6 linked regions of the Homo sapiens genome follow. The protein of the gene in region 5 purifies or fractionates together with the protein of the main gene of each other region. This does not show direct contact. Each region holds a gene or a part of one and is shown on either strand. Other genes may lie near its edges. The genes, in order: MTO1, SLC25A16, SLC25A30, PCSK6, C4BPB and OLFM2.

The links.
Region 1: the proteins of C4BPB (region 5) and MTO1 purify together in Homo sapiens (affinity purification with mass spectrometry, with the first as the bait; one large-scale study listed by BioGRID). This does not show direct contact.
Region 2: the proteins of C4BPB (region 5) and SLC25A16 purify together in Homo sapiens (affinity purification with mass spectrometry, with the first as the bait; one large-scale study listed by BioGRID). This does not show direct contact.
Region 3: the proteins of C4BPB (region 5) and SLC25A30 purify together in Homo sapiens (affinity purification with mass spectrometry, with the first as the bait; one large-scale study listed by BioGRID). This does not show direct contact.
Region 4: the proteins of C4BPB (region 5) and PCSK6 purify together in Homo sapiens (affinity purification with mass spectrometry; one large-scale study listed by BioGRID and IntAct). This does not show direct contact.
Region 6: the proteins of C4BPB (region 5) and OLFM2 purify together in Homo sapiens (affinity purification with mass spectrometry; one large-scale study listed by BioGRID and IntAct). This does not show direct contact.

Annotation. Positions count from the first base shown.
Region 1 is NC_000006.12:73,471,737-73,475,236, forward strand, and holds part of MTO1 (5-taurinomethyluridine-[tRNA] synthase subunit MTO1, mitochondrial), read left to right. Parts: intron 1-1,628; coding exon 1,629-1,918; intron 1,919-3,500. UniProt on the Homo sapiens protein: Component of the GTPBP3-MTO1 complex that catalyzes the 5-taurinomethyluridine (taum(5)U) modification at the 34th wobble position (U34) of mitochondrial tRNAs (mt-tRNAs), which plays a role in mt-tRNA decoding and mitochondrial translation.
Region 2 is NC_000010.11:68,480,011-68,482,523, forward strand, and holds part of SLC25A16 (solute carrier family 25 member 16), read right to left. Parts: 3' UTR 1-2,513. UniProt on the Homo sapiens protein: May be involved in the transport of coenzyme A in the mitochondrial matrix. Very little is known about the physiological function of this carrier.
Region 3 is NC_000013.11:45,408,374-45,411,873, forward strand, and holds part of SLC25A30 (kidney mitochondrial carrier protein 1), read right to left. Parts: exon of another isoform or gene 3,360-3,500; intron 3,108-3,359; 5' UTR 3,053-3,107; coding exon 2,989-3,052; intron 702-2,988; coding exon 554-701; intron 1-553. UniProt on the Homo sapiens protein: Antiporter that transports inorganic anions (sulfate, sulfite, thiosulfate and phosphate) and, to a lesser extent, a variety of dicarboxylates (e.g. malonate, malate and citramalate) and, even more so, aspartate.
Region 4 is NC_000015.10:101,304,708-101,308,207, reverse strand, and holds part of PCSK6 (proprotein convertase subtilisin/kexin type 6 isoform PACE4-AI preproprotein), read left to right. Parts: exon of another isoform or gene 1-882; coding exon 883-995; intron 996-2,470; exon of another isoform or gene 2,471-2,852; coding exon 2,853-2,950; 3' UTR 2,951-3,500. UniProt on the Homo sapiens protein: Serine endoprotease that processes various proproteins by cleavage at paired basic amino acids, recognizing the RXXX[KR]R consensus motif.
Region 5 is NC_000001.11:207,095,360-207,098,859, forward strand, and holds part of C4BPB (C4b-binding protein beta chain isoform 1 precursor), read left to right. Parts: coding exon of another isoform or gene 1-209; exon of another isoform or gene 210-670; intron 671-1,162; coding exon 1,163-1,256; intron 1,257-2,790; coding exon 2,791-2,905; intron 2,906-3,500. UniProt on the Homo sapiens protein: Controls the classical pathway of complement activation. It binds as a cofactor to C3b/C4b inactivator (C3bINA), which then hydrolyzes the complement fragment C4b.
Region 6 is NC_000019.10:9,930,016-9,933,515, reverse strand, and holds part of OLFM2 (noelin-2 isoform 2 precursor), read left to right. Parts: intron 1-3,500. UniProt on the Homo sapiens protein: Involved in transforming growth factor beta (TGF-beta)-induced smooth muscle differentiation.

The sequences.
Region 1 (3,500 bases), on a different chromosome or scaffold from region 5:
AAATGCTATTTTGTGATCCTGTCCATATTTTATAGGCCCAACAATAACAATTTTTTTGTGGTAAAATATACAAACCATAAAATGTACCATTTTAACCATTTTTAAGTGTACAATTCAGTGCTATTAAGTACATTGACAGTGTTGTGCACCCATCACCACCAACGGTCTCTTGAACTTTTTCATCATCCCAAATTAAAATTCTGTACCCATTAAACAAAAAGTCCCCATTACCTGAAGAATAAACCTCCATTTTACTGTAAGGTAGAGCTATCTGAGGACAAAACCTTAATGTGTAAATTTCAGCTGTTTCTTTCATTTTCTGTTCCAAGTTTCATTTCTACATTCCTCCTCAGTTCTTATTCTCAGTTCTCTAATTTCTGAGCCTTTGCAGGGCAAATTAGTTCATTCTCATTGATATATCTTCTCTTCAGATATTAATACTTAAGTTATAGCTATCTCCCCTCTGCTAGATGAGTTACCATTCTTCCAAACACTTTCTATCTTTCAAAAATACATTGAAATTTCTCATCTTCTGACTGGTTCTTTTTCATTACTTGTCCTTTTGGTTTTATACCTTTTTTATTCCCCTATTTAATTTTCTTTGAGTTTTAGAAGGGAGAAGAAATGAGAGGTTGTATGCCATATTTATCCTGAAGTCTAAAATTAATTAATTTTTTAAATTAATTGAGACTAACTTTTTAGTGCTGATATGATTTTAGGTACATGTGAATTGGTGATAACACATTGTATTCTCTCTCCTAGATTGCTTAGATTGAGATTGATAACATATTAGCCTTCTTACTCATTTAAAATTCTTTGTCTGGGGTAGGGGAAATGGGAAGATACTGCTCAAAGGTTATACATTTTCAGCTGTAAGTTGAATAAGTTCTAGCAATCTAGTGAGCAGTATGGTAACTGCAGTTAATAATAATGTATGATATACTTGAAATTTGCTAAGGGAGTAGATCATAAGTGTTCTCACCACACAAAACGTGTAACTATGTGAGGTGATGGTTATATTAATTAGCTTGATTATGGGTATCATCACAGAAGGTATACTTGTATCAAAACACCATGTTGCATACTCTAAATATATACAGTTTTTTATATGTCTGTTATATGTCGATAAGTCTTGAAAAAACAAAAATATTAAAAAAGATTCTCAAGTTTTTAAAGACTGATAGTTTTTCTGTAGTTGTAATGTAAAATAGTCACATTCCATTTTGATCCATGGTAACAATTTAAAAAATGACTTTAGGCCGGGCGCGGTGGCTCACGCCTGTAAGTAATCCCAGCGCTTTGGGAGGCAGAGGTGGGTGGATCACCTGAGGTCGGGAATTCGAGACCAGCCTGACCAACATGGAGAAACCCCATCTCTACTAAAAATATAAAACTAGCTGAGCGTGGTGGCGCATGCCTGTAATCTCAGCTACTCGGGAGGCTGAGGCAGGAGAATTGCTTGAACCCGGGAGGCGGAGGTTGCAGTGAGCGGACATTGCACCACTGCCCTCCAGCCTGGCGATAGAGTGAGACTTCATCTCAGATAGATAGATAGATAGATAGATACATAGATACATAAATACATAGATACATAGATAATGACTTTATTCTTTTTTCTTGTTATTTAGTGGATGGAAGCACAGTATATGCAGAGAGTGTGATTCTGACTACTGGGACATTTCTGAGAGGCATGATTGTAATTGGATTGGAGACGCATCCAGCAGGACGTTTAGGGGATCAGCCTTCTATAGGATTGGCTCAGACACTGGAGAAGTTAGGGTTTGTGGTGGGAAGGTTGAAGACTGGGACTCCACCCCGAATTGCCAAAGAGTCCATTAATTTCAGTATTCTAAACAAGCATATACCGGACAATCCATCCATACCATTCAGCTTTACCAATGAGACAGTATGGATTAAGGTAAGATACTTTACGAAAACCTGGCTTACAGCTGGTATTGGCTATTCACAGCAGGAAGTACTGTAACTTTTTTTTTTTTTTTTTGGCAGCAGTTCACTTTATAGCACTATTGCTTATAGTGCAAAGAAATGATTTTTTTTTTTTTTTTTTGAGATAAGGTCTCACCTTGTCACCCAGGCTGGAGTGCAGTGGTACAATTATGGGTCACTACAGCCTTGACCTCCTGGGCTCAAGTGATCCTCCCACCTCAACCCCCTTGAGTAGCTGAGACCATAGGCATGAGCCATTGTGCCTGGCTTTTTAAAATTTTTTTGAGAAATGGGGTTTCACTATGTTGCCCAGGCTGGTCTCGAACTCCTGGGCTCAAAGGATCCACCCCCCTTGGCCTCCCAAAGTGCTGGGATTGCAGGTGTAAACCACCGAACCCAGCCAAAGAAGTTATCCTTTTTTTTTTTTGTGGTGGAGACTTGCTCTGTCACCCAGACTGGAGAGCAGTGGCACGATCTCAGCTCACTGCAACGTCTGCCTCCTGGGTTCAAGCAGTTCTTCTGCCTCAGCCTCCCGAGTATACAGGCACGCGCCACCACACCCGGCTAATTTTTATATTTTTAATAGAGACAGTGTTTCACCATATTGGCCAGGCTGGTCTCGAACTCCTGACCTCGTGATCCACCCATTTCAGCCTCTCAAAGTGCTGGGATTATAGGCGTCAGCCACTGCACTCAGCCTAAAGAAGTAATCTCTAAAAGGGATTAGCTAACTTGGCTAATTGGGTATTTCCCCATAAATCGTAAATTTCTTTTTTTTGTTTTTTTGAGACAGTCTCAGTCTGTCGCCCTGCTGGAGCGCAATGGTGAAATCTTGGTGCACTGCAACTTCCGCATCCTGGGTTCAAGCGATTCTCCCACCTCAGCCTCCCTAGTAGCTGGGATTGCAAGCACCCGCCATCATGCCTGGCTAATTTTTATAGTTTTGTAGAGACGGGGTTTCACCATGTTGGCCAGGCTGGTTTTGAACTCCTGACCTTAGGTGATCCGCCTGCCTCAACCTCCCAAAGTGCTGGTGCTGGGATTACAGATGTGAGCCACTGCACCCGACTTTTTTTTTTTTCTTTTTTTGAGACGGAGTTTCGCCATTGTTGCCCAGGCTGGAGTGCAATGGCGCAATCTCGGCTTACTGCAACCTCCGCCTCCCAGGTTCAAGCAATTCTCCTGCCTCAGCCTCCTGAGTAGCTGGGATTACAGGCTCCTGCCGCCACACTGGCTAATTTTTGTATTTTTAATAGAGACGGTGTTTTGCCATGTTGGCCGGGCTGGTTTCAAACTCCTTACCTTAGGTAATCCACCCTCCTCAGCCTCCCAAAGTGCTAGCATTACAGGCGTGAGCCACCGTGCCTGGCAAATCTTAAATTTCATTACTTTTATAACCTTACATATTTTGTAAATTAAGCTTTTATTTTAAAAAATTTTTTCATTTATTATTATTTTTAATAGAGACAGGGTCTCGCCATATTGCCCAGGCTGGTCTCGTACTCCTGAGCTCAAGCCATCCGCCCACCTCAGCCTCTCAAAGTGCTGGGATT
Region 2 (2,513 bases), on a different chromosome or scaffold from region 5:
AAAAAAAAAAAAAAAAGAATGTAATGAGATATTATTAAACATATCCAGTAACTTCTCCACCTTCTACAGGTAATTACTGAAAACTAGGAGGTATACCTCACTTATCAATCTGGAAACCAGACCACTGTCCCATTCTACAGACCAGAGAGCTATACCCACTGAGAGGTGGAAGAGAGGAACAATAAAGATCAAAAAAGAAATAAAATGTCAGTCTTCAAATGGAAGATAACCTGGCAAGATGCACTTTGGGCAATCTGAAATAAATCAGATATAAACACAGTCATTATTTTAAATATTCTTCCATTCTGACTTATGTTTAGCATTTGTGCTTCAATATGTAAACAGTTGAAAGAAAGAAATTGTCAAAACATGGATAAAATTTATTTTTAATATCCTCTGTATTCTATAACATATAGAATGCAAATTTTTATTTAAAAGATATTTGCAATCCCCTTTTACTGATAACCTAACTGAGGTATCTTTTTTTTTTTTTTTTTTTTTTTTGAGATGGAGTCTTGCTCTGTCGCCCAGGTTAGAATGCAGTGGCACGATCTCGGCTCACTGCAAGCTCCGCCTCCCAGGTTCAAGTGATTCTCCTGTCTCAGCCTCCTGAGTAACTGGGACTACAGGTGCGTGCCACCACGCCCAGCTAATTTTTTGTATTTTTAGTAGAGATAGGTTTTCACCGTGTTAGCCACAATGGTCTCGATTTCCTGACCTCGTGATCCCCCCGCCTCAGCCTCCCAAAGTGCTGAGATTACAGGGGTGAGCCACCATGCCCGGCTCAATACTTATTTTATATACTTAAATTATCTTAACATTTAATAACAATAATTAGCTACAGTGTGGTCTAGAAATGAAAATATACAAATGGTTTTAAGAACACATGTATTTCTTTTTTTTTTCTTTTATACAGTCTCTGTATAAAAGAAATTTTTGTACAGCCTTTTTTTTTCTTTTATACAGTCTCACTCTGTATAAAAGAAATTTTTATACAGGCTTTTATACAGCCACCCAGGCTGGAGTGCAATGGCGCAATCTTGGCTCACTGCAACCTGTGCCTCCTGGGTTCAAGCAATTCTCCCTGCCTTAGCCTCCCAAGTAGCTGGGATTACAGGCGCCCGCCACCATGCCCGGCTGATTTTTGTATTTTTAGTAGAGACAGGGTTTCTCCACGTTGGCCAGTCTGGTCTTGAACTCCTGACCTCAGGTGATCCACTCGCCTTAGCCTCCCAAAATGCTGGGATTACAGGCGTGAGCCACCACATCTGGCCAAGAACACATGTATTTCTACCTACTGGTACACTTATAAATCATACAAAGATACATACTTATTTTTAAAATAAAGGCTTTCAAAATGAAACCAGCTCATCAAATTTTTACCAAGGTATGACAAGAAACCTTTTATGTAAAGAAATAAAAATTGAAGCAAAAATAACACTTTCAACTTAGTTTTCCTTCTTTTGTTTGAAAGAAACGGGGTCTCACTATGTTGCCCAGGCTGGTCTCGAACTCCTGGGGTCAAGATATCCTCCCGCCTCAGCCTCCCAAAGTGCTAGGGTTACAGGCAAGAGCCACCACGCCTGGACTCAACTTAGTTTTCTAATGTCTCCTTTTTTTTGAGATGGAGGCTCATTCTGTCACCCAGGCTGGAGTGCAGTGGTGTGATCTCAGCTCACTGCAACCTCCGCTTCCCGAGCTCAAGCAATTCTCATGTCTCAGCCTCGCGAGTAACTGGGACTACAGGCACGAGCCACCACACCTGCTACTTTTTGTATTTTTAGTAGAGGTGGGGTTTCACCATGCTGATCTTAAACTCCTGACTTCAGGTGATCCACCCAACTCGGCCTCCCAAAGTGCTGGGAATAAAGGCGTGAGCCACCACACCTGGCCTTCTAATGTCTTTAAAGTCACATCAAAGGGCCGGGCGCCGTGGCTCACGCCAGTAATCTCAGCACTTTGGGAGACCAAGGTGGGCAGATCATGAGGTTCAGGAGATCGAGGCCATCCTGGCTAACACGGTGAAATCCCGTCTCTACTAAAAATACAAAAATTAGCCAGGCGAATTTTTGGTGGTGGGCACCTGTAGTCCCAGCTACTCGGGAGACTGAGGCAGGAGAATCACTTGAACCCGGGAGGCAGAGGTTGCAGTGAGCTGAGATCGCGCCACTGCACTCCAGCCTGGGCGATAGAGCGAGACTCCATCTCAAAAAAAAAAAAAAAGTCACATCAGTTCTACAAATTACTCTTTCTGAACACAGAACTTTAAATATTCCCTTCCCATTTATGACACGCTTATAATAAATCATAAAAAGTACTCTAAACAGAATAAATGGAATTCTTACATTTTAAAACATTTTCTTAATATAAAGGATAACAATTCAAATCATATTTTACATTTCTACGTCTTCATATTGCACTAAAATTATTTTACATGGAAGAACTAGTTGATGCATCATAATACCTTAGAAACATTTTTTGATATTCACATCTATATTAATAAATATTTCACA
Region 3 (3,500 bases), on a different chromosome or scaffold from region 5:
GTGGATCCATGGCAGGGCTGTGGGTCACCAGTTTGTGCTGTGGTGTACTGGAGAAAATCAAGATGCTTAGCGTGACATGAGGCTGTCCACGTTCTGTTCCTGCAGGTATTCTGATATAGGTCTCACTCACTATCCAGTGCCTACAGAATACTGTTCATTAAATACTGAAAGACTGGAAAGTAGTTCACTGCAACTCTTATCAACATCATATAATTTTCATTATGGCAAAAACCTCCTTAATTCAGAATATCTAAGAAAAAGAGCTATTTTCAAAGCATGAAAAACCGAACAGAATGTTTTTAAACAAACATAATTTTTTATTGTTGTCTGTCTGTACTTGAATATAGTAAAACAGTTTCACCAAAACATCTGCTGCATAATATATATACTTAGAAATTAGAGTTGAAATTAAAAGTGAAAAATCTGTCATGCTATTTGTTCTTTTCAAACACACCTCAAACTTTTTACTTGTGATCTGTGCAGTCTTGGTCTGAAGTCTATACCCATGTGAAACAGTGAACAGTGACACAGAAATGCATGAAGGCCTACTCACCCCGAGTAGAGTGCTTTCAGCCCTTCTTCTCTGCCTATCCTCACTAATGCGTGCAACATTCCTCGGTATCTAATTTCCTTAAATTTTGCATCATTCGTCTGGCCTTGAATCTGGAGCCGTGTCTTGGTTAAATCAATTGGAAATGTACCTTAAAATTTAAAAAGAAATTCACTTAATAAAAAGAAATTCCACTAAATAAAGGATACGTAGTGATATATTACTGAGGAAACATTCAGACTACAATATAAACTAAGAAAGTGATTAAGAAATGGCACTTTGCAATCTTGTTTATATTTTTAAAAATTGAGGAATCAAAAGATTAATAAAACCCAAAAAATGCATAGATATATTTTCCTTTCTTTATCTTTTTATTTATACCTCATCTTATTCTACACAGGATTTGGGTAGGCTGCATTGTTGTAGAAAGCAAATACGTGGTATGATTTACCTAAACAGGAAATCCATTGAAAAACATAAGTTACTATTCTGTATATAAATGAAGGTTAAAATGGGGTTGAATGTGAACAAAGAGGTAAAAAAAGTTCATTTTCTAAAGTGGTTTTCCACTTGGGAGAGTGTTTTATAGTCTAAAATTAATCTGGCTAGGCACAGTGGCTCATGCCTGTAATCCCAGCACTTTGGGAGGCTGAGGTGGGCGGATCACCTGAGGTTAGGAGTTCCAAACCAACCTGGCCAACATGGTGAAACCCCGTCTCTACTAAAAATACAAAAATTAGCTGGGCGTGGTGGCAGGCACCTGTAACCCCAGCTACTCAGGAGGCTGAGGCAGGAGAATTGCTTGAACCCAGGAGGCAGAGGTTGCAGTGAGCCGAGATCACGTCACCATACTCCAGACAGGGTGACAGAGTGAGACTCTGTCTCCAAAATAAAATAAAATAAATCTGATAATGCAGATAAATATGTTAAATACTGTACCTAACAAATAGTCCACCCAAATATATAAAACCCATCCTCAGACAGTAACCTTGATTCACTGTGTCAATGGGAAAGCCCACCAGCACAGAGAGCCTAAGCTGGTGAGTGGGTGGTTACCACGGCTCATCCAGCTTACCCACCTTGGCCTCAATTCTCCCCAGTCCCACAGGGGCAGTATTCTATCCTTGGACAGCAGTGACTGAGCCCTGGAAGCAATGATGTGTCCCCAACCCAGCACAGGGCATTCAACAGCTGCTCAATCAGTGTTTGCTGAATGAATGACTCCAGAGAATAAACAAACAGGATCTGATGTGGAACCCAACCGATGAGGAAGTCACAAATGGGAACTGGATAATGTGCATCATCAGAAAGTGACTAGATAACTACAGTCCATCTCATCTGGCTCAGGGAACACCCTTGAGCTTCTCAAACCTCTTTACAGCCAAACAGGTTAACAGTGGCAAAGCTGGGGGAAAGGACAAGGAAAACGGACAGACACAATCCAAAAATGATTCATAAAACTTGTGTTTGAGGCTGAGCATGGTAATAATCCCAGTACTTTGGGAGGCCAAGGGAGGTGGATCTCTTGAGCTTGGGAGTCGAGACCAGCCTGGGCAACATGGCAAAACTCCATCTCTAATAAAAATATAAGAATTAGCCGGGCGTGGTCGTGCACATCTGTAGTCTCACCTATAATCCCAGCACTCTGGGAGGCCGAGGCAAGTGGATCTCTTGAGCTTGGGAGTCGAGACCAGCCTGGGCAACATGGCAAAACTCCATCTCTAATAAAAATACAAGAATTAGCCGGGCATGGTGGTGCACATCTGTAGTCTCACCTACTTGGGAGACCCGGGTGGGAGGACCGCTTGAGCACGGGAGGCGGAGGCTGGAGTGAGCCGAGATCAGACGACTGCACTCCAGCCTCAGCAACAGAACCAGACCCTGTCTCAAAACAAAAAATTTTAAAAAACTTGTGTTTGGTCAATAGGATCAACTTTCTCTCCACTAAACTTCGAACCCTAAACTGCTAATAGCAGCCAAAATGACTATTTTGTCTTAAAAAGCATTACCAAAAGAAAACTTTCTTTTTTTTGAGACTGGGTCTCACTCTGTCACCCAGGCTGGAGAGTGCAGTGGTTCACACATGGCTCACTGCAGCCTCGACCTCCTGGACTCAAGCAATCCTCCCACCTCTGCCTCCCGAGTAGCGGGGACTACAGGCCTGTGCCACCACACCTGGCTAATTTTTTTTTTTTTAATAGAGGTGAGGTTTCACTCTGTTGCCCAGGCTGGTGTCGAACTCCTGGACTCAAGAGATTCCCCTTCCTCAGCCTACTAAAGTGCTGAGATTATAGGCGTGAGCCACCACACCCAGCTAACAGACATTTTGAATTCTGAGACAAACATTTCATCATCTCACATTCTACACTTGAACTACATTCACATCAAACACCATCACATACAGCAGGCTACGTGATCCACCACCCTCAGGTCCTTACCGCACTCAGCAGTGATGGAGGCCAGCCCCCCGTACACAAACGGCTTCCAGTTGAGGGCTGACATTCTCACACTGTCTCTTCTTTGATTTATAGAAACATTGCCTCCAGTGCTGTTTTTCCTGGACACAACAATAAGATATTATCAAGCTGTAACTTCTCACACAGGCAGTTTCTTCTCCAAACTCTTCCCCTAGGTTTTATTTGGAGAGTGCTATCACCAAAACCCCTGCAGCAATTCCCAAGGGGAGCCTCCCCTTAATAAAGCAAAGCACCCCTATTTCCTCAACCTCAAATCAACAATTTCCAATCTTACTTTATCAGTGATCTTAATTTTTACTGTGACCTCAAGAAGTAATCAGCTACTTTGATACCTTGGTATGCGTGTATGTATTCAGTGTAGTGCAGCGGAAGCTGTTCTCTGGGAAGTCTATTTTATCTTAAATCTATTCTTCATGCAATAAGTATTTGCAGCAGCCATGATGGCTCACGCCTGTAATCCCAGCATTTTGAGA
Region 4 (3,500 bases), on a different chromosome or scaffold from region 5:
CTGGACTCAGGACAGGCAGCAGCATAGCCGGGGTGCACTCACGGCCCCAGGATGGGAAACGTGCTCCTTCAAGCACTCGGCCCGCATCGGCAAGTGCTTTCTGTAGAGGGCACAATGGTCAGTCGTTCAGGCTTTTGGGGCCACACTGCCTCTGTCACAGCTACTCAGCTCAGCCACTGCTACACAAAAGATTGTCAATGAATGAGTGTGACTGTGGTCCAGGATAAATGCTGGATGTGGCCCTTGGGCTGTAGTGCACCAACCGTCCCCTGAGGTCACGTTTACCCTGCATTAGAAATAGCCCTGGCTGGTGTCCATCTCTGCGCAGGCTGGGCCAGGACCGTCCGAGAGGGGCAGGAATTGTGGGGCATCTCTCCCACTCCCCGAGGGTAAGCAGGCATGGCCACATATAGGTGACAGCAGCCTTCTGGTCAGCTCGAGTCAGGTGTGTCACATCCCTGGGTGGAGTCTGGCCTGGACCCCAAGCCTACAGCCATCGCAGCCCGGCAGCCGCTGGAGAGAGAAGACTGACACAGCTCTGGGAGCCGTGTGGTGGGGTGGGGGCTGGGTGCCAGGGCCCAGGAGGGTGTCCAGGTGAGCTGCGGGAAGCCTCGGAGGCCTGGCCCCTGATCCTGGGCTTGCTCCTGCCAACTGGCCATGGCTGTCTCTGCCCTCCCAGGGCAATAGTGAGGTCAGACAGGAGAAAAGACATGCAGACACTCAGCCCCTGTGTCAGGGAATGGTGGGCGACACAGCCTCTCCACAGAGGACCGAGGCTGAGGGGGTGGGAAGGAGGTGCAGGGAGGTGAGGGTTCTGGGAAGGGAGCCCGGAGTGGTGGAGCCTCTTCCCCAGACTTCAGCAGGAACGGTATCTTCCCACAGGTGTGACGAGAACTGCTTGAGCTGTGCAGGCTCCAGCAGGAACTGTAGCAGGTGTAAGACGGGCTTCACACAGCTGGGGACCTCCTGCATCACCAACCACACGTGCAGCAACGGTGAGCAGCAGCTGGGTTACCCTGGGGCTGCCTGTGGAGGAGCTCAGCTGGCCAGCTCGTGCTCCAAAGAGAAAAGCAAAGCCACATAGGCATGGCGGCTCCACAGACAGGCGTTCGTGCCCCTGATCCGATTGACTGTCTGGGATTCCTCTAGCTGATATGGAAGACAGCTGCCCTGTCTCCCAGCTTCCCTCTAGGCCTCTCACATCGATCAGAGAGGCATCCCAGCCACTGCTGATCTGTTTATTGAGTGACTCCTAAAAATGATTTTGTCCTTGTACTGGTCCCACTGCCATGCCATAGGCCGCCGGTGGCCCGGATGTGACGACATACCATAAAAGAAGCCTGACCTGGGGGGTCAAAGCCAGGAAGCCTGGAGGGTCTCTGCTCAGGACGAGGGGGACAGAGCCCAGAGTAGAGCACACGCTCAGCAGCAGCAATCCCAGCTCTGCAGGGATCCAGCATGGACCTGCATCTGTGCTGCAGGAGAGCCCTGGCTCTGCCATAGGATGGGGGACAAGGACAAGTTGTAAAAACAGAAACTTAAAAGGGCACCAAAGCTAAGTGCCCAGTTTGGGAATTCCAGGCACCAAGGAGGGTTGGCAGGACTCGGGCCTGGAGGTGCAGTGCAGGAGTCATTGTAGACACACGGGCAGGGAAGGGGGCTCTGGCCCAGCAAGCAGCAGGGTGGAGCCACATTCTGACAGCCAGGAGAGGAAGGCTCTCTGCTCCAGTGTCCAGGGTCAGGGCAGGTGGTCCTTGGGTATGAAGCTGGCACTGGCCCTGTCCAGGCAGAGCATGGAGCTTGTGGAGGGCCCTGGGATGCCTCCTTGCCTTGTTACTGGTTATTATTTTTGGGGGGTGGCGGGAGGGTTGTCTAATTATGTCCCTTCAAAGGCCCAGAAACTACTTCTTTGGGAAGTCACCTGCCCAGGTTATGTATCTAGCCCAAAAAAGTGTGGTTGCCACTGGAGGGCCTCCCAGGTCCACGGATGATGCATCCTCAAAGGCCTCTTCCCCTTGCTGCAGCGGTGTCCTCAGCAAGTCCTGTCCACGGCGGCTCCCTTCCCCCCATCCCCACTCCTCCCTGTCCGCCCCCTCCACCCTGGAAGCAGCTTCCATTCCCTCCTGCCTCCAGGCCCGTCCTCCGGCCTCCCCTACAGTCTTCCTCCTAAGCTCCACTGCCAGCAGTTGTCCAGAAAGACAGGTGCACATGTGCCCCACAGGCCCAGGCTGGGTGTTCTCCTGAGATCCCTCCCACACCACCCCCACATCCTGCTCATGAATCCCCTTGTCACTGAGACTCAGCAAGAGCCCCATATACCAGTGCCCTCCCGCCACACAGGGCTCCCAGAGTCAAGTGCATTGCAGGAGAGGGGCTTCAAGGGCTGCCATCCTGCTGCCCACCTCTGTCTGTGTCCCTCTTGCCCAGGGCACCACTGATGCCCAGCATATGTGGAATGATTGAAACAATATTTATTTATGTATTTATTTATTTATTTTTGAGACGGAGTTTTGTTCTTCTTGCCCAGGCTGGAGTGCAGTGGCATGATCTCAGCTCACTGCAACCTCTGCCTCCTGGGTTCAGGTGGTTCTCCTGCTTTAGCCTCCCGAGTAGCTTGGATTACAGGTGCCCACCACCATGCCCAGCTAATTTTTATATTATTAGTAGAGACGGGGTTTCACCATGTTGGTTAGACTGGTCTCAAGCTCCTGACCTCAGGTGATCCACCCACCTCGGCCTCCCAAAGTGCTGGGATTACAGGCATGAGGCACCGCGCCCGGCCTTGAAACAATCTTCACAGGCACCGAAGACTGACCTTTCCCTCTTTTGCCTTTCCTGATGCGGGGCCCCAGCTGACGAGACATTCTGCGAGATGGTGAAGTCCAACCGGCTGTGCGAACGGAAGCTCTTCATTCAGTTCTGCTGCCGCACGTGCCTCCTGGCCGGGTAAGGGTGCCTAGCTGCCCACAGAGGGCAGGCACTCCCATCCATCCATCCGTCCACCTTCCTCCAGACTGTCGGCCAGAGTCTGTTTCAGGAGCGGCGCCCTGCACCTGACAGCTTTATCTCCCCAGGAGCAGCATCTCTGAGCACCCAAGCCAGGTGGGTGGTGGCTCTTAAGGAGGTGTTCCTAAAATGGTGATATCCTCTCAAATGCTGCTTGTTGGCTCCAGTCTTCCGACAAACTAACAGGAACAAAATGAATTCTGGGAATCCACAGCTCTGGCTTTGGAGCAGCTTCTGGGACCATAAGTTTACTGAATCTTCAAGACCAAAGCAGAAAAGAAAGGCGCTTGGCATCACACATCACTCTTCTCCCCGTGCTTTTCTGCGGCTGTGTAGTAAATCTCCCCGGCCCAGCTGGCGAACCCTGGGCCATCCTCACATGTGACAAAGGGCCAGCAGTCTACCTGCTCGTTGCCTGCCACTGAGCAGTCTGGGGACGGTTTGGTCAGACTATAAATAAGATAGGTTTGAGGGCATAAAATGTATGACCACTG
Region 5 (3,500 bases):
TTGCTCTGTTTCCCAGGCTGGAGTGCAGTGGCAGAATCTTGGCTCACTGCAACCTCCACCTCCCAGGTTCAAGCAGTTCTCATGCCTCAGCCTCCCAAGTAGCTGGGATTACAGGTGCGCACCCACGCTGGGCTAATTTTTGTATTTTTAGTAGAGACTGGGTTTCACCATGTTGGCCAGGCTGGTCTCAAATTCCTGACCTCAGGTGATCCACCCCCTTCAGCCTCCCAAAGTGCTGGGATTACAGGTGTGAGCCACTGCTCCCACCTTCTCCCCTTTTTCTGATACTCTCTTTGATATAGTTTGGATGTGTGTTCCTGCTCAAATCTCATATTGAATTGTAATCTCCAGTGTTGGAGGTGGTGCTTGGTGGGAGGTGACTGGATCATGCGGGTGGATTTCTCATGAATGGTCTAGCACCATCTCCCTAGGTACTGTCCTCATGACAGCGAGTGAGTTCTCATGAGATCTGGTTGTTTAAAAGTGTGTAACGCCTCCTCCCTCTCTCGTTCCTGCACCTGTTATGTGAGATGCCTCCCTCCCCCTTTGCCTTCTGCCATGATTGTAAGTTTTCCGAGGCCTCCCCAGAAGCCGAGCAGATGCCAGCACCATGTTTCCTGTACAGCCTGCAGAACTGTGAGCCAATTAAACCTCTTTTCTTTATAAATTACCCAGTCTCAGGTATTTCTGTATCACAATGTGAGATGGACTAATACACTCATGTTTCACAACTCTTATCCACAGGGGATGTCAGCTTCCACTTGAGCTCACACGCTTCATCTCCTCTCTCAGGGAGTTATTTCTTCAGCCTTCACCTATGGCCCAATTTTTCTTTTCTTGTACATTAACAATTAGCTTCTCTACAACTTAAAATTTCTTTCCTTGAGCTCCTGCTGTCAGATAATACTCCCAAATCCCTACTAACTCAGAAGATGGGCTGGGGGAAAGCTCTTTCCCATGGACAAATATGATTTAGAAGAGAAGGAAATGAATGAAGAACAGGTTTCCAGATCCCGCAGGTGTTGCTGTGAGGATGTCAGGTGCTGGCGCAGGTGTTGCTCTGAGGCTGTCAGGTGCTGGCATAAACAGCTGCAATTAGGGGTGCTGTTCATTGAGCGTGCCTGGCCCTCATAACTATGACTTCTATACTCGTTTCTCTCAGGGGACTGTGACCCTCCTGGGAATCCAGTTCATGGCTATTTTGAAGGAAATAACTTCACCTTAGGATCCACCATTAGTTATTACTGTGAAGACAGGTAAGTGAACACAGCCTGTCAAATGCCAGATCTTGCCCCTTGGCAGCATTGTTTTGGGGAATAACCCAGTCTGTGTCCACCTGGTCATCTGATTTCCTACTGCTGCAGGATTCTAAGCTCATTCTGATTTTGAGAGCTGCTTTGGCCCTCTGCTAGCTCTCCTCAATCCCTAGAAGACAGACTGATCCTACTAAAGTATCCTACTTACCCCAATGCAAGTATCTCTTTTTCCTCTCCGCCAAGACAAGATAAATTATTTAAAATGAATGGATTTGGCTGGGCGTGATGGCTCACACCTGTAATCCCAGCACTTTGGGATGCTAAGGCAGGCGGTTTGCTTGAGGCCAGGAGATCAAGACCAGCCTGGCCAACATGGCAAAACCCTTGTCTCTACTAAAAATACAAAAATTAGCTGGGCGTGGTGGCACACTCCTGTAATCCCAGCTACTCAGGAGGCTGAGGCATGAGAATCGCTTGAACCCAGGAGGCGGAGGTTGCAGTGAGCCTAGATGGCACCACTGCACTTTAACCCAGGTGGAAAAGTGATACTCTGTTTTAAAATAAATAAATAAATAAAATGTATGGGTTTTTTGTTTTTTTGTTGTTGTTATTTTTGAGACAGTGTCTCCCTCTGTCACCCAGGCTGGAGTGCAGTGGTGTACTCATAGCTCACTGCAACCTCTGCCTCCTAGGCTCACGAGATCCTCCCACCTCAGCCTCTCTAATAGCTGGGACTACAGGCATGGGTCACCACGCTTGGCTAATTTTTTAAGGTTTTGTAGAGACAGGGTCTCCCTATGTTGCTCAGGCTGGTCTTGAACTCCTGAGCTCAAGTGATCCTCCCACCTTGGTTTCCCAAAGTCCTGGAAAGTGCTGGAATTACAAACATGAATCACTGTGCCTGGCCTAAAATGTATGTTTTTCTAAAAAAAAAAAAAAAAAAAAATCAGAGAATATAAATACTAAAAAACAAACATAGAAGTGCAGAAATATAAAGACTTAGTGTATAGACCCTTAAAGCCCCCTAATTAACTCAGAGTCATGTGGCCTCACTGGCATTTCGATCTCGTTATATACCTTCAATGCACTTTGCAGGCAACTCTCATATTTTTCTGATGAAAAGCAATTGCTCCTTTTTAGCCCCTTCGCTAAGATTTATTTGCAGGTGTCTCTCATTTTCTACTCCTTTTTAGAGCTTAGATGCCAGATGCCTTTTTAGGTTATTGAATGATAAAGTGCTTCTATCACTCTCCCCACCCAAAACCTGGGTGTGTAAACACCTGATTCAGAATTTCTCACTTCTCTATGTTTTATGGGTTGACTCATCACTTGGGTCCTCTCCTACCTCCAGGAAAATGGTTTTACTTTGAACTGCTTTGTAATACCGAGATAACTTAAGCATGCATTGAGGCTCAAGGGCAGGGAGGTGGATTCCATCACAGCATGAAATACTGAAATACAACTACACAAAACCAGTCTCCATTACCCAATTCAGAAAGTGGAAAAGCTAAGCCTTGTTCTAATTTCTGTTCAGGTACTACTTAGTGGGCGTGCAGGAGCAGCAATGCGTTGATGGGGAGTGGAGCAGTGCACTTCCAGTCTGCAAGTTGATCCAGGAAGCTCCCAAACCAGAGTGTGAGAAGGCACTTGTAAGTAGGAGGCTCATATCTGTCTTGTTCACAGCTGGATCTCCAGGGCCTGGCATCACTCCTGGCATATGCTCAGTATATATCTGTTTAATGTGGGACATTTTGCTTTTGAATGGGTTGGCCTTGGCCTGGCTGTAGAAGGGACTCATAAACTATTAACTCACATTTTTATAAATGGAAGTTGGAAGTTCCCATTCACTACCATCATCACAAATACCTCATGAGACCCTGTTGGTAGAAGTTGTTGTCTCATGTGCCTTATAGAGCAGTGGTTCCCAACCTTTTTGGCACCAGGGATGGGTATCATGGAAGATGACTTTTCCACGGATGGGGGTGGGGAGAGTGGGGATGGTTTGGGGATGATTCAGATGCATTACATTTATTGTGTACTTTATTTCTATTATTATTACATTGTAATATATAATAAAATGATTATATAACTCACCATAATGTAGAATCAGTGGGAGCCCTGAGCTTGTTTTCCTGCAACTAGAGGGTCCCATCTAGTTAGGAGTGATGGGAAACTGACAGATTATCAGGCATTAGATTCTCATCTGGGAGTGTTGGGAAACAGTGACAGATCATCAGGCATTAG
Region 6 (3,500 bases), on a different chromosome or scaffold from region 5:
CTGTAATCCCAGCACTTTGGGAGGCCAGGGTGAGTGGATCACTTGAGGTCAGGAGTTTGAGACCAGCCCGGCCAACATGGTGAAACCCCGTCTCTACTAAAAATGCAAAAAATTAGCCAGGTGTGGTGTTGCACACCTGTAGTCCCAGCTATTCAGGAGGCTGAGGCAGGCGAATTGCTTGAACCTGGGAGGCAGAGGTTCCAGTGAGCCAAGGTCATGCCACTGCACTCCAGCCTAGGCAACAGAACAAGACTGTCTCAAAGCAAAAAAACAGAAAAAGATTACAAGGTGGGGGCTATTTGAGCCAGTGTGGTCAGGGAAGGTGTCTCTAAGGAAGTAGTGTTTCAGGTGACATCTGAAGGAGGTGAGAGAGGGAGCCTTGTGGGTGTCTGGGGGAAGAGCATTGAAGGTGGGAGGAACAGAAGGTGCAAAGGCCCTGGGGTAAGAACAAGCTTGGTGAGTTTCAGAAGCAGTGTGGACGCTGGTGTGGCTGGAGAGGTCGCGGGGAGATGAGGCCGGGGAAGCCAGACCACTTAGGAACTTGTAAGCTGTGGGCAGAAGTTTGGATTTGACCCAGAGAGCAGGAGAACAGGAAAGCAGGGCCTGTCAGAGGCATTGTCCATTCATCCAGGATCTATCCAAGATGTTCTGGGTTCTGGCCTGGGAGTGACTACCAGAGAGCTTGACAGTTCTGAGCCCCACTATTTTCCTTGTGGAAAAGATGCCTTCCTGATCCCTGCGAAGGCCTCCCTAAGATCTAGCTACATCGTTGGCACTATCTGGGTTTGGGACCAACTCTTTCCTGGGGCTTTCAGAGGATGGGGAGAAGGAATAATTCAGTTTAGATCACGTGCCTCAGGGACTTCACACTTGCTGTTCCCTCTGCCTGTGACACTGTTCCCCCTGGTAGCTATTTATCTCTGATTTCTGCTTAAATGTCACCTCCTCCAAGAGGCTCACCCTGAACAGCTAAGTGAAATAGCCCCCTGCTGCCACTCTCTGAGTGCTTACTCCGTGTTCTTTTTCTTTCTCTCTCTTTCTTTCTTTTTTTTTTTTTTTTTGAGACTGAGTCTCACTCTGTTGCCTGGGCTGGAGTGCAGTGGCGCAATCTCGGCTCACTGCAAGCTTTGCCTCACCGGTTCAAGTGATTCTCGTGCCTCAGCCTCCCGAGTAGCTGGGACTACAGGCACGTGCCACCTGATGCCCAGCTAGTTTTTGTTGTATTTTTAGTAGAGACAGGGTTTCACCATGTTGGCCAGGCTGGTCTTGAACTCCTGACCTCAGGTGATCTGCCGCCCAAAGTGCTGGGATTATAGGCATGAGCCACCACGCCCGGCCATATTTTTCTTTATAGCCCTCGTTTCCACATTTCTATGATTCTTCTATTCATTCATTCTCTGTTTCCCCACTAGAGCGGCAGTTTATCAGGGTTCAGCTAGCTTTGTTGTTTCTCCAGTGTCTAGAGCAGAGCCTGACACACAGTAGGTGCTCAAGAAATATCTGCTGAATGGATGAATGGATGGATGGATGGACCCCCTCACACACACAGAGTGTCTTTCTTTCTCAAACCACAGGATTCTTTTATCAAGAGAGTGTCAGGGGAACACTCGCTCCTGGATGGAAGGCACCAAGAAAATCCATTCTTCAGGCCAGGTGTGATGGCTGATACCTATGATCCCAGCATTTTGGGAGACCAAAGCCAGAGGGTCTCTTGAGGCCAGGAATTTGAGACCAGCCTGGGCAATACAGCAAGATCCCATCTCTACAATAACTTTTTCTTTTTATTTCTTTTTTTTTTTTTATTTTTGAGATGGAGTCTTGTTCTGTCACCCATGCTGGAGTACAGTACAGTATTGTGATGATCTCAGCTCACTGCAACCTCTGCCTCCCGGGCTCAAGAGATTCTAGTGCCTCAGCCTCCCGAGTAGCTGGGACTACAGGGGCGTGCCACCACACCCAGCTAATTTTTGTATTTTTAGTAGAGATGGGGTTTCACCATTTTGGCCAGGCTGGTCTCGAACTCCTGACATCTTGATTTGTCTGCCTCGGCCTCCTAAACTGCTGGGATTACAGGCGTGAGCCACCGTGCCCGGCCTCTGCAGTAACTTTAAAAAAAATTGGCCAGGCTTGTAGTTCTACTCAGGAGGCTGAGGTGTGAAGATCACTTGAGCCCAGGAGTTTGAGGCTGCAGTGAGCTATCATTGCACTACTGCACTCCAGCTTGGGCGACAGACTGAGACCCTGTCTCCACAAAAAAGAAAGAAAGAAAACCCATCTTCTTTACCTGTGCCTGACATTCCACCGATAGGGCACTGTTGTTTAGGGGTAAGACGATGTTCTCCTGGGGCTCCTTTAGAGCATGTAAATGTCCCAGTGGAGGGAAGTAAAAGGAAATTTAAAGACTCCGAGTTAGTGTAGGAAAGAGCCCCTTGGGGCTGGATTTAAGATTATGGAGCTTGAGCGACATCTAGTGGTCGAGTGAGGTTTGTGCAGGGACTGTGTGCGTCTGTGTGACTGGTGGGTGAATGTGTGTGGTTGTGCACCTGTGCGTGGGCGCGTGCGTATGTGGGATGGGGGTGCCCAGGTCAGGGTAAAACAGGTGAGATACTCGCCGCGGGTGCAAACATTTTAAAAAGTTGATGATGATGATGATGATGATATTTGAAACAGAGTCTTGCTGTGTCGTCCACACTGGAGTGCAGTGGTGCGATTTCGGCTCACTGCAATCTCTGCCTCCCGGGTTCAAGCGATTCTCCTGCTCAGCCTCTCGAGTAGCTGGGATTATAGGCGCACAGCACCACAGCCGGCTAAATTTTTTTTTTTTTGTATTTTTAATAGAGACAGGGTTTCACCACGTTGCCCACTCTGGTCTCGAACTCCAGACCTCAGATGATCTGCCCGCCTTGGCCTCCCAAAGTGCTGGGATTACAGGCGTGAGCCACGGTGCCGGGCCTATTTCTAAGACGGGGTCTTGTTCTGTCACCCATGCTGGAGTGCAGTGGTGCAGTCATAGCTCACTGAAGCCTCCAACTCCTGGGCTCAAGTGATTCTTCTGCCTCAGCCTCCTGAGTAGCTAGGGTGACAGGTACATGGTACAGAGTTCAGCTATAGTACAAAATTTAAGGGTATGCCCCCCAAAAAAATAAAAACCAGTAACCAAGATAAATAATATTTTAATGGAACATTTTAAGAAAAATCTAAATTGATGCAAGAAAAATCTATAATGAATAAAAACAAATTTTTAAATAAATATGGGCTCCCCCTCTGCACTTGCATAACTTGCCTCACTCTAACTTTGGCCCCATAGGCATGTGTCTGTGGTGTCATGCGTGTATGTGTATGTTTGGTGACTGTGTGCATGTTCAGGGACCATGAGCACAGGGACATGCTTGTATCATCATCACACCAGTGACTGTATCCATGTAGGCCAACCATATGGTATGTGTGGATTTCTTTCTTTCTTTCTTTTTTTTTTTGAGATGGAGTTTCGCTCTTGTTGC